Linked DNA regions of Homo sapiens. The protein of the gene in region 3 purifies or fractionates together with the protein of the main gene of each other region. This does not show direct contact. Each region holds a gene or a part of one and is shown on either strand. Other genes may lie near its edges.

Region 1 (3,658 bases), on a different chromosome or scaffold from region 3:
CCAGGAAACTTGGCCCTGGCCCCTCATTTCTCCATTATCCATGTACCAAGATCCCCTGTATCTCTCTTAGTTAGACAAAGCAATGTATTTTTATTTAAGGCTTCTATAGAAGATCAGAGTAAAATAGTTAGGCTTCTTCAACCTAGAATGATGTGACAGGGTAGACCTGATCCAAGTTTGTAAGTTATAAACAGTTAAATTAGAATTGTTTCTCGAAATTCTTGGTGATTAGGAAGTCACTTTATAGCATGCATTGAATTAAAGCTTGGACTGTAACAATTAAGCAGATTTTATTTCGTGTACATTACCTCTGGCTGTGCAGAAAGTTCTCTTAGAAGATGACCATTCCATACAAACCGCTGATCTGCCTGAGAGAAGTTTTAAAATTTAATAAAATATCTCCTGCCAAGCTTACTTTCTACAGAAAGAAAACTACACCAATCAATGTCTCTTTCTGATGGCTAGAAGCCAGTTTCTTTGACAGGCCTCAAACAAAATACATCTCCCCCGCAAATCTGTACCTCCTGTGGGCATTTCTGTCTCATTGTCTCAGGCCAGACAGAAACCTGGGAGGAGTTTTACGGTATTTCTTTCCCTTACATTTAATTGTCAAGTACTAAATCTCCTTCAAAATCCATATTTTTTACATTTCTACTCCCACTATCTTTACCAACATCTGACTCCAGCCTAACTAACACACCTTCCCTTGCCTCCAGTTTAGGCATTAGCCCTCGCCACTCATTTTTCCACAATGCTACCAGCAGGAGTTCTCTAACATGTCCTGTCTCCTATCTGCTCAAAATTCTTCAATGACTCTGTCATCTAAAGAACCAAATCTCTGCATGGCCTAATCAGTCCTAGGATCTGGCAGCCCCTAATTAACTCTCTGATCTCATCTCTGGCCACTCCAACTTTCATAAATACAGAAGAGGCTCCCTCAACAATCTATATTTAATCAACTCTACTTAGGGCCAGACGTGGTGGCTCATGCCTATAATCCCAGCACTTTGAGAGGCCAAGGCAGGCGGATCACTTGAGACTTAGGAGTTCGAGACCAGCCTGGCCGACATGTCTCTACTAAAGATGCAAAAATTAGTCAGACGTGGTAGCACGTGTCTGTAGTCCCAGTTACTTGGGGAGGCTAAGGCACAAGAATCACTGGAACCTGGGAGGTGGAGGCTGCAATGAGCCAAGATCGTGCCACTGCACTCCAGGATAGGTGACAGAGCAAGACTCTGTCTCAAAAAAGAAAAAACAAACAAAATAACTGACTCTACTCAGTAGATTAATCAATTCTATTTATGAAGCATACCAACTGAACCACCAGCACCGCCGACTCTAAAAGTCACAGGGAATGGCTTTTGCACTTGACCACAACCAGCTGAATCGCACTTCCTGAGATTCAAGTGTGTGTTCCTGAATTTGTACCAGTCATACTTATTATTATTTCATCATTATATAGTTTAACTATTTTATAAACCAATGAAATAAGATGAAAAACACACTGCTGTTTCTATAAAGTTAAATGATTTGGAATGTAACTTGATAAGAGGCAAGTTGCTAAAACAAAACTGCTGTTGAATTTGGAGTGGGAGTGGCAACTAAAAAAATATAAAAGAACATAGTAAAAATGTACAGGATTCTGCACACAGATTTCTCTGTAAGTGTCAAAGTCTTTAAAGTGGCCCAAATGGGAAAGCCCTATGGATGTAATTTACACAGGGAAGACAATTCAGAATCAAGGAACCAAAAACAAAGAAAATCCTATGGCCGTACATAAAAACATTGACCAATGTAAAACTTTTAGGTTTTAAGTTAAAATATTTAGGGTATATATGTTCCATTTATCACTTTTATGATTCCCTATGTTAACATTAACTTTTTTTTTTTAGACCGTCTTGCTGTTGCCTTGGCTGGAGTGCAGTGGCGTGATGACAGCACACTGTGGCTTCTATCTCAAGTGAACCTCCCACCTCAGCCTCCCGAGTAGCTGGGATTGCAGGTGCGTGCCGCCACACCTGATTAATTTTTAAATTTTTTTGTAGAGCTGTGGTCTCCCTATGTTGCCCAGGCTGGTCCTGAACTCATGGACTCAAGCAATCCTTCTGCCTCGGCCACCTAAAGTGTTGGGATTACAGGCATGAACCACTACACTTGGCTAACTTTCTGTTTAGCTGACAAAACATTCCCATCTCATCCCAACAGATGAGATGGCTTTTTCTGCAGCTTAGCCTCTGCCACCACCTCTGCCTGGAACCCCCCGGCCCACTGTCACCTGACCAACAAATCTTCATCAAGTCTCAGCTCAAAAGTTACCTTTCTGTGTAAAGTTACTGTCCTCTGTAGATACCTTACTTTATAAAGTTGTCCCTGACAACCTCAGGCAAAGACCCTCATTCCTTCAGGATCCCACCTCACTTTGGTACATATCACCATTATAGCAACCATTCTTTGACTACCACTTCCCCAGCAGACTGTAGGCTCCCACAAGACAGGGTCCACAGCTTCATTCTGGGTCCCCAGGGGCTAGTATAGTTCCTGGTACATGGCTGACGTTGTAGAGATGTTTCATAAACAAATGGAGAATGTAGCAACTGCTTTTAAAAGCAAGTCTCTTTGTAGTTAAAAGCCAAGTTTCTTGAATGCTTAGCCTGCACCTAAACTTCCATCTAAGCCTACATACAATTTTACCAAATTAGAGTTGAAAATCTCACCCAAAAAAGCCAGTCAACTAAAATATTAATTTAGGTTGAACCACATGAAATAACCATTTTTATTGGTCAAAAATGGTCAATTACTGGCGACTTCACATTGTCCAACCTAATAAGTAAGATGGAGCGACCTTTTAAATTCTGTCTTCTCATTAAACACTTCTAAGGTGTGTCAAAAAAAAATTCAGGTAGCAATCATCCAGGTTCCTGAACAAAAGAAACTTTAAGTTGAGATCATATGAAACCTAATTTTAAAGATATATTCACTGTATATTAAAAAAAAAAAAAAAAAAGGCAGACTGGGCAGGCACAGTGGCTCACGCCTGTAATCCCAGCACTTTGGGAGGATGAGGTGGGTGGATCACTTGAGGCCAGGAGTTCAAGGCCAGCCTGGGCAACATGGCGAAACCCCATCTCTACTAAAAACTAGCCAAGCGTGTTAGCACACGCCTGTAATTGCAGCTACCTACAAGGCTGAGACATGAGAATTGCTTGAACCCAGGAGGCAGAGGTTGCAGTGAGCTGAGATCGCACCACTGCACTACAGCCTAGGTGACAGAGTGAGACTCTGTCTCAAAGAAAAAAAAAAAAAGCAAAATAAAAAAAACCTTAAAAGGATATTTTCCAAGTTCTAGTGACTTTTGTTACATTTTTAGTTATAAAAATTATAAATAAGCATCACTACAGAAGAAATATCAACTGTTAGAATATGAATTTTATAAGCCTAATTACACTGCTAATGTAACTGCTACACTACCGAACACTGAGAGTTAAGAAATTACAAATGAATGCAATGCTAGTTTGAAGATTTGACATCTGAGAGTTAGCACTTGGTAGCCTGGTAATACTTATGCAGAAATACAAATTCTGAAAGATTTTCCTCTAATAACTTACATGTGTGTTTATACAAAGATTTCTGAATATCTACACCAGTGATTCTCAATTCT
Region 2 (3,658 bases), on a different chromosome or scaffold from region 3:
ACAAGCCTTGTGTTGTGTAAGTTACTGAGGAAGAGACTTGTCCAAATCTGTATGTGCAGAGCAATTTACATGATTTGAGCCCTATTACTTAAATCACTACACAGTATGGCCTGGAAATCTGCAAACGCTTCCAGTTAAAGCAGCTGTTTTTTGTGCCTTTCATGGTGCCTCCAACAATGGCCCCCCAAAGTCAAATAATATTGGGCTAATGGAAAAAATAGTGAATTAACTAGGTTTCCTATTTATATAAAAATTTTGAAAACAGTCCTTGCATTAGATTTATATCAATTATATGTATATCAATTACATGCAGGAGAAGCAACACACCTAAGGTACGCATGCAGTTAAAACCAAATAGAGATAATTGACATCTTCTCCCTCAAGACAACATGAAATTCATCAATACCTGTCATGCAGCTGGTATCTTTCCCGAACTTCTTCCAAAATGATTCTCTTTGGTCCCTCTCCTCCAATTATGAAATTTAAATCTGGATATTTCTGACAGAGTTCAGGTATTATACCACTAAGCAAATCGATCCCTGAAAATATAAAGTTGAATGTTGGAGATATTAATATTTAAACTTAAAAAAATTCACCAGAACGACTGAGAATCCACTTATTTTGAAAAGTATTAGCTATGCACTCCATAAAGGAGAGAAACTCTCTTAAACCTTTTCCAGGAGTGGAATTGTTTGCAAACTGGCAGTGGTCCCCCAAGAGTTACAATTCTTGAAGACGTAGACCTTGACATGCATTACCTTCCACACACCCAAAATATGGACTATTCTGTTTCATCTCAACAGACTATTCTTTAAGTTATTCACTTGTGTTTATACATTGCGTACTTCTAAAAAAGGTATATTTAAGGTGGCTAAGGTTTGAGTTCGTTTTCTCCAGAGCAGGCAGCTGATTGGAGATCTGGGTCTTTTCCCAGCTTTTTTAACCAGCAAGCCCATTGATCGTGGGGAAGTTTCAAGATCTATAAAATAAAGATACCTATGTACCTAAAGTCTCTTTCAGCTATAAAATTCTATCAGTCTGTGATCCCACTTACTGCCACAGGAAAAGGCTAAGCAACGAAATCTAACTGCTGCCTCCACTTTGTTTAAAATGTGGCTGGTACAGAGAATTTTGCAGTGAACACTACATTATCGCAAAATTTAAGTTCAAACCAGCTATAGCCCACTTTCCTGGAATGAGGGTAAATGAAGGCAGCAGGGCATCAACTGTTAGATCACTACAGTCCATAGAACAAAAGGATGCATCTTGGCTCCTTTTTTCTCCAAAATGATTTTCTTATAATATATAAACACAATCTCAGGTAATAGAAAACAATAAAGTAAATTATGCCCTATTAGTCTGAAAAAGTGAGTGGCTATCCAAAGTCCCAACAATGTCAACACTATTTAAGAATCTAGTTCATTAACAATTACAAAACGTACATATTCAAAAGTAAGAGTAGGCAGGGCGCGGTGGCTCACGCCTGTAATCCCAGTAATCCCAGCATTTCGGGAGGCCAAGGCAGGCGGATCACAAGGTCAGGAAATTGAGACCATCCTGGCTAACATGGTGAAACCCCGTCTCTACTAAAAATACAAAAAATTAGCCGGGCGTAGTGGCGGGCGCCTGTAGTCCCAGCTACTCCGGAGGCTGAGGCAGGAGAATGGCGTGAACCCGGGAGGCGGAGTTTGCAGTGAGCCGAGATTGCGCCACTGCACTCCAGCCTGGGAGACAGAGCGAGACTCCGTCTCAAAAAAAAAAAAACAAAAAAAAAGTAAAAGTAAATATAAAATAATCCACCTAGAGCTAAGTTTATTAATTTTAAAAATGCACACACACATAAGAATTGTATTTCTTAATCTTCCACCCCAAATAGGCAGATCAGTTATAAAATAGATGATATTTTATATCAGATATAAAATAGGAGAAATGACATATATATTATAGGGTCATTTTTATTAAATAATACAAAGTAGAATTCATTAAGTAAACTCTGCTAGTACTTTCAAACTGTTATTGTATGTATCAAAAATTCCCACGCAGCTTTTCTGAATATGAAGGCTTCTCATTAAAATCATAGCTATCTTTGTTTCATGTCTACTAACAAATCACTCAATTGGATTTCTAGATAAACCAGAAGGTAGTTTAATGACTTTTAACATTTAGTCTCCTACAATTCCTTCAATCCATTTTCTTCCTCACCCTTTTCTTTCTCGTACAAGGTTAAGAGCCCATTCTTCAAACAAACAAAAAACAACATAGAGCAATAGTCATAAATGATAATAGCTAACAGTAACAGAGTGCTTGCTATGACAGGCAATATACTTTAAATTCATTATGTCATTTAATCCTGACAAGTATCTCATAAGAAATGGAACTGATTACTATTACCAATGATCTATATTCTTATTCTAAGAATAAGGGCTTTTCCCCACCACTATAAAAAAATTTATTCTGGAGCCTCTAAGAAGGGTATAATGCAATGGAACCTAGAGACTTTCGACTGCCATGTGAACACAAAACAGACAATGAAAATCTCTGATCCAAACTGCTTTTAAAGCTCAGTCTAACAATATTTTTAAGAACCTTCTGATCTACACCTAGGATATGAGTGGCTGGGCATGGGTGGAGGAAGAGGAGAACTTAGCTCCAGAAAAGCTGAACTCGTGTGTCATCTCTGTTACTTACTGTGTAACCTGGGTGAGTTACTTACCCTCTCTGAGACTCAATTTCATGTAGATAACATCTACCCTACAGTTGTTGGGAGGGTCAAATGAGGTATTGTACCACGAACAGGCTTTATCAACTGCAGAATACAAATGTAGGTTGTCATTACCACTACAGAAGGAAGCAGGTGAGCGTGCCTACACATGCAGAGTGCTGGTAAATCCTGACTGAGAGCAAAACAGGCTTGGAAGAGGAGGCTCAGGAAAAAGACATCCAAAAAGCCTGGATAAGGAAAACTTTGATTTATCCTCTCTCTCACTTAAGACATTCCAGTGGGACTTTGATATCTGGTCCAATAAACTCCTGAGGAAATTAATTTGTTAATAAGGAATGGACCATTAATACAACTACTCACTTTTGGGCTACAGGCATGGCTGTTCCTTTTCAGAATGTTACTTTCTGCAGGGTGCCTGGCATCTGGAGAGGGTTCGATAAATAACTGTTCAATTACTGAATTGAGTACAGGAAAGGCCATACCATCACTCCATTGGTGGTTAGCTCAGCTAGTTAAAATACCACATTAGGGAAGTAAAGGTAACAGGTTTAATCTTTGCATGGGTAGTTAATTTTGCTGATCCTTGATCACACTTGTGTCATACTCTTTCTCAGCTAGCCATCTCAAGAAGATATGCTATTTGGTTAAAAAATAAATTAGGTACAATTCCTAAGTTACAAAAAAACACATCACTAATGTCCCAGGAGGAATTCAGAATACAGAATGCCAGTCGGTTCACATGTTCCTGATTAAAGAATGAAAGCATGTCATTGCCTTCAAACCAGAAAATGAAGTTCAGGCCAAGTTTCCTTGCCAACCTCCACTTAAATGGACTGCTGGGTCAATCAAGATTCTCCATTCCAAACGTAAACTGACCAAGGCCCACATCTAGATTTTAGGCCACTCCCTAGCACACTGGCACACCACTGAATTCAG
Region 3 (2,456 bases):
GCGCCTGTAGTCCCAGCTACGTGGGAGGCTGAGGCAGGAGAATGGTATGAACCCGGGAGGCGGAGCTTGCAGTAAGCCAAGATCGTGCCACTGCACTCCAGCCTGGGCGACAGAGCGAGACTCCGTCTCAAAAAAAAAAAAAAAAAATACAAAAATTAGCTGGGTGTAAAAGTAGCCCAGCTAATTTTTTGTATTTTTAGTAGAGATGGGGCTTTCACCATGTTGGCCAGGCTGGTCTTGAACTCCTGACCTCAAGTGATCCGCCCTCCTTGGCCTCCCAAAGTGCTGGGGTTACAGGAGTGAGCCATCGCACCCGGCCAAGTATTTGTTAATTAGCTGAATAAAAGAGTGTTCTCACCTTTGATTAAGCCACTTGCTCCACCCCGAATGCCTTCCCTTCTTCTTGCCTTTCCTAATCCCACCTAAGCCTTGGCTGTAGCCCCCACTCCTCCAGGAAGCCCTCATTGACTAGATGAGTTCTGAGCCCTTCTTGCCCCTCACCTGTTAAAATGCCTAATTTTAGGTGCCAAGTAAAGTCTGAAGTGGTGGTGAGAGGCAGAAGAGAATAAATTTTTTTTTGGAGCTTTACTGGGGTTAAGGGCAGGGGAGGGGAGGGGCCGCCAGAGGCTCCCAGCCAGGGCGGAGCCTCAGGGAGACAGCTGGGGATGCAAGTCACTTCTTCCACTGCTTCTTCTCATAGTCCCAGCGGGAGGCCAGGCCCTGCACAGGATTCACCTTCATGTCCAGCATGCGCTGCAGCTGCTGGGCTTTCCGCTCGTCCGTCAAGGTGATCGGCTTTGGAGGAAATACTGCAGGGAGTACATGGGGTGGATCAGGATCCTGCCAGTCTTCCTACACCAGCCAGGGTCTCCAGCCACCCTGTAGCCTCCCAGCCACTCGCAAGGCTGACGGTACAAGATACTCCAGGGTTGAAGTATCTTGCACTGAGGAGCTCACTCCACCCTGTCTAGCCCCGCACCCCAGACTTTCTCCTAGAGCATCGTCCCAGGCACCTCTGGGTTCTGACCCCAGCTTTGCCTTAGACCCCAAGGACTGTGGGAGCTGGGCCAAGGTCCTTCACAACTCAGTCACCTCACCTACCTCTGTGGTCTGTGGTAATAAGATCACTGATTTGAAGACTGCCTGAATCCAAATCCTGGCTCTACCACTCCCTTGCCCTGCGACCTTCAACAAGTCACTTCATCTCTCTGAGCCTCAGTTTCCTTACCTGTCAAAAGAGGTCCTATCCACTAGGATTGTGGGGACTGAGTATTTCCAAAGCTGTTGGCACAATGTTAGACAAATATTAAGCACCTGATACATGTTACCTACTATAATTATATAATTACTGAGTTTGTTCCCACTTGCTGGGCAGGGTCCAGGATGAAATAATTCCTTTTACTTTCTAAGAGGGTTGAAAGTAGGAAGTAGGTAAGAGTGTTCACTTTAAAAATATGGGGACAGGCCACCGGGCACAGTGGCTCATGCCTGTAATCCCAGCACTTTGGGAGGACGAGGCAGGCGGATCACTTGAGGTCAGGAGTTTGAGACCAGCCTGGCCAACATGGCGAAACCCTGTCTCTACTAAAAATACAAAAATTAGCCGGGCGTGGTGGCACACTCTTGTAGTCCCAGCTACTCGGGAGGCTGAGGCAGGGGAATCATTTGAACTGGGGAGGCAGAAGTTCAGTATATATATACACTGAAAAACACACAGTTCATACACAACAATCAGTTACAACACCATTCATGACTATGAGCCAAACACTGGCCTACAGCCCTCTCTCATTAAAATCCTCTTAAGTACCCTGAGATGGAACATTACTATTCCCATTTTAGAGATGACGAAACTGAGGCCCAGAGAGGTAAAGTTCCTGCATTCAAACCTAGACAGCCATGCTCTGTCCTTCACCCTACACCTCTTCAGAAATTTTCAGCTCTTCAGATGAGTGCCAGCATGGTTCCTTTAAGAAACTGTCTGGTGGCCGTGACCACAAGGGCATGGCCCAGGACTGCAGCCAGATGAGGTGTTGCCACTCACCGTAGACCCGCTGCCACCAAATCACCAGAGCTGCGAATCCAATGAAGAAGAAGACACAACCCATCACTGTCTTCCACTCATTGGAGCGACGGTTCATCTCCGCAAAGGTCTCATTGAACTGGAGCCGGTACACTGGAGGCAGTTGGGTGTGGGGAAGGGGCCTCAGGTGCGTCCACTCTAAGTGATCCCGGCTTCCCCCTCCCTGCAGCAGATGCTGTTCATTCAGCAAATTCTTACTGAGCACGTACTATATGCACAGCATGACCAGGAACAGGTGACAGCAGTGAATGAGCCAGATGAAAATCCCTGCCCTTGTGGAGTTTAGAGGGGGAGACAATGGCAAATGCTTCAGGCAAACAGTTGGCTGGCCAGGGAAGGTGTCTCAGAGGAGGTGACATTGGAGCTGAGGTTTGAA

Evidence for each region.
Region 1: the proteins of COX4I2 (region 3) and SACM1L purify together in Homo sapiens (affinity purification with mass spectrometry; one large-scale study listed by BioGRID and IntAct). This does not show direct contact.
Region 2: the proteins of COX4I2 (region 3) and PIGA purify together in Homo sapiens (affinity purification with mass spectrometry; one large-scale study listed by BioGRID and IntAct). This does not show direct contact.

Annotation. Positions count from the first base shown.
Region 1 is NC_000003.12:45,709,847-45,713,504, reverse strand, and holds part of SACM1L (phosphatidylinositol-3-phosphatase SAC1), read right to left. Parts: intron 369-3,658; coding exon 309-368; intron 1-308.
Region 2 is NC_000023.11:15,325,508-15,329,165, forward strand, and holds part of PIGA (phosphatidylinositol N-acetylglucosaminyltransferase subunit A), read right to left. Parts: exon of another isoform or gene 2,807-3,658; coding exon of another isoform or gene 2,714-2,806; intron 540-2,713; coding exon 407-539; intron 1-406. UniProt on the Homo sapiens protein: Catalytic subunit of the glycosylphosphatidylinositol-N-acetylglucosaminyltransferase (GPI-GnT) complex that catalyzes the transfer of N-acetylglucosamine from UDP-N-acetylglucosamine to phosphatidylinositol and participates in the first step of GPI biosynthesis.
Region 3 is NC_000020.11:31,643,121-31,645,576, reverse strand, and holds the end of COX4I2 (cytochrome c oxidase subunit 4 isoform 2, mitochondrial), read right to left. Parts: intron 2,174-2,456; coding exon 2,042-2,173; intron 810-2,041; coding exon 673-809; 3' UTR 571-672; downstream 1-570. UniProt on the Homo sapiens protein: Component of the cytochrome c oxidase, the last enzyme in the mitochondrial electron transport chain which drives oxidative phosphorylation.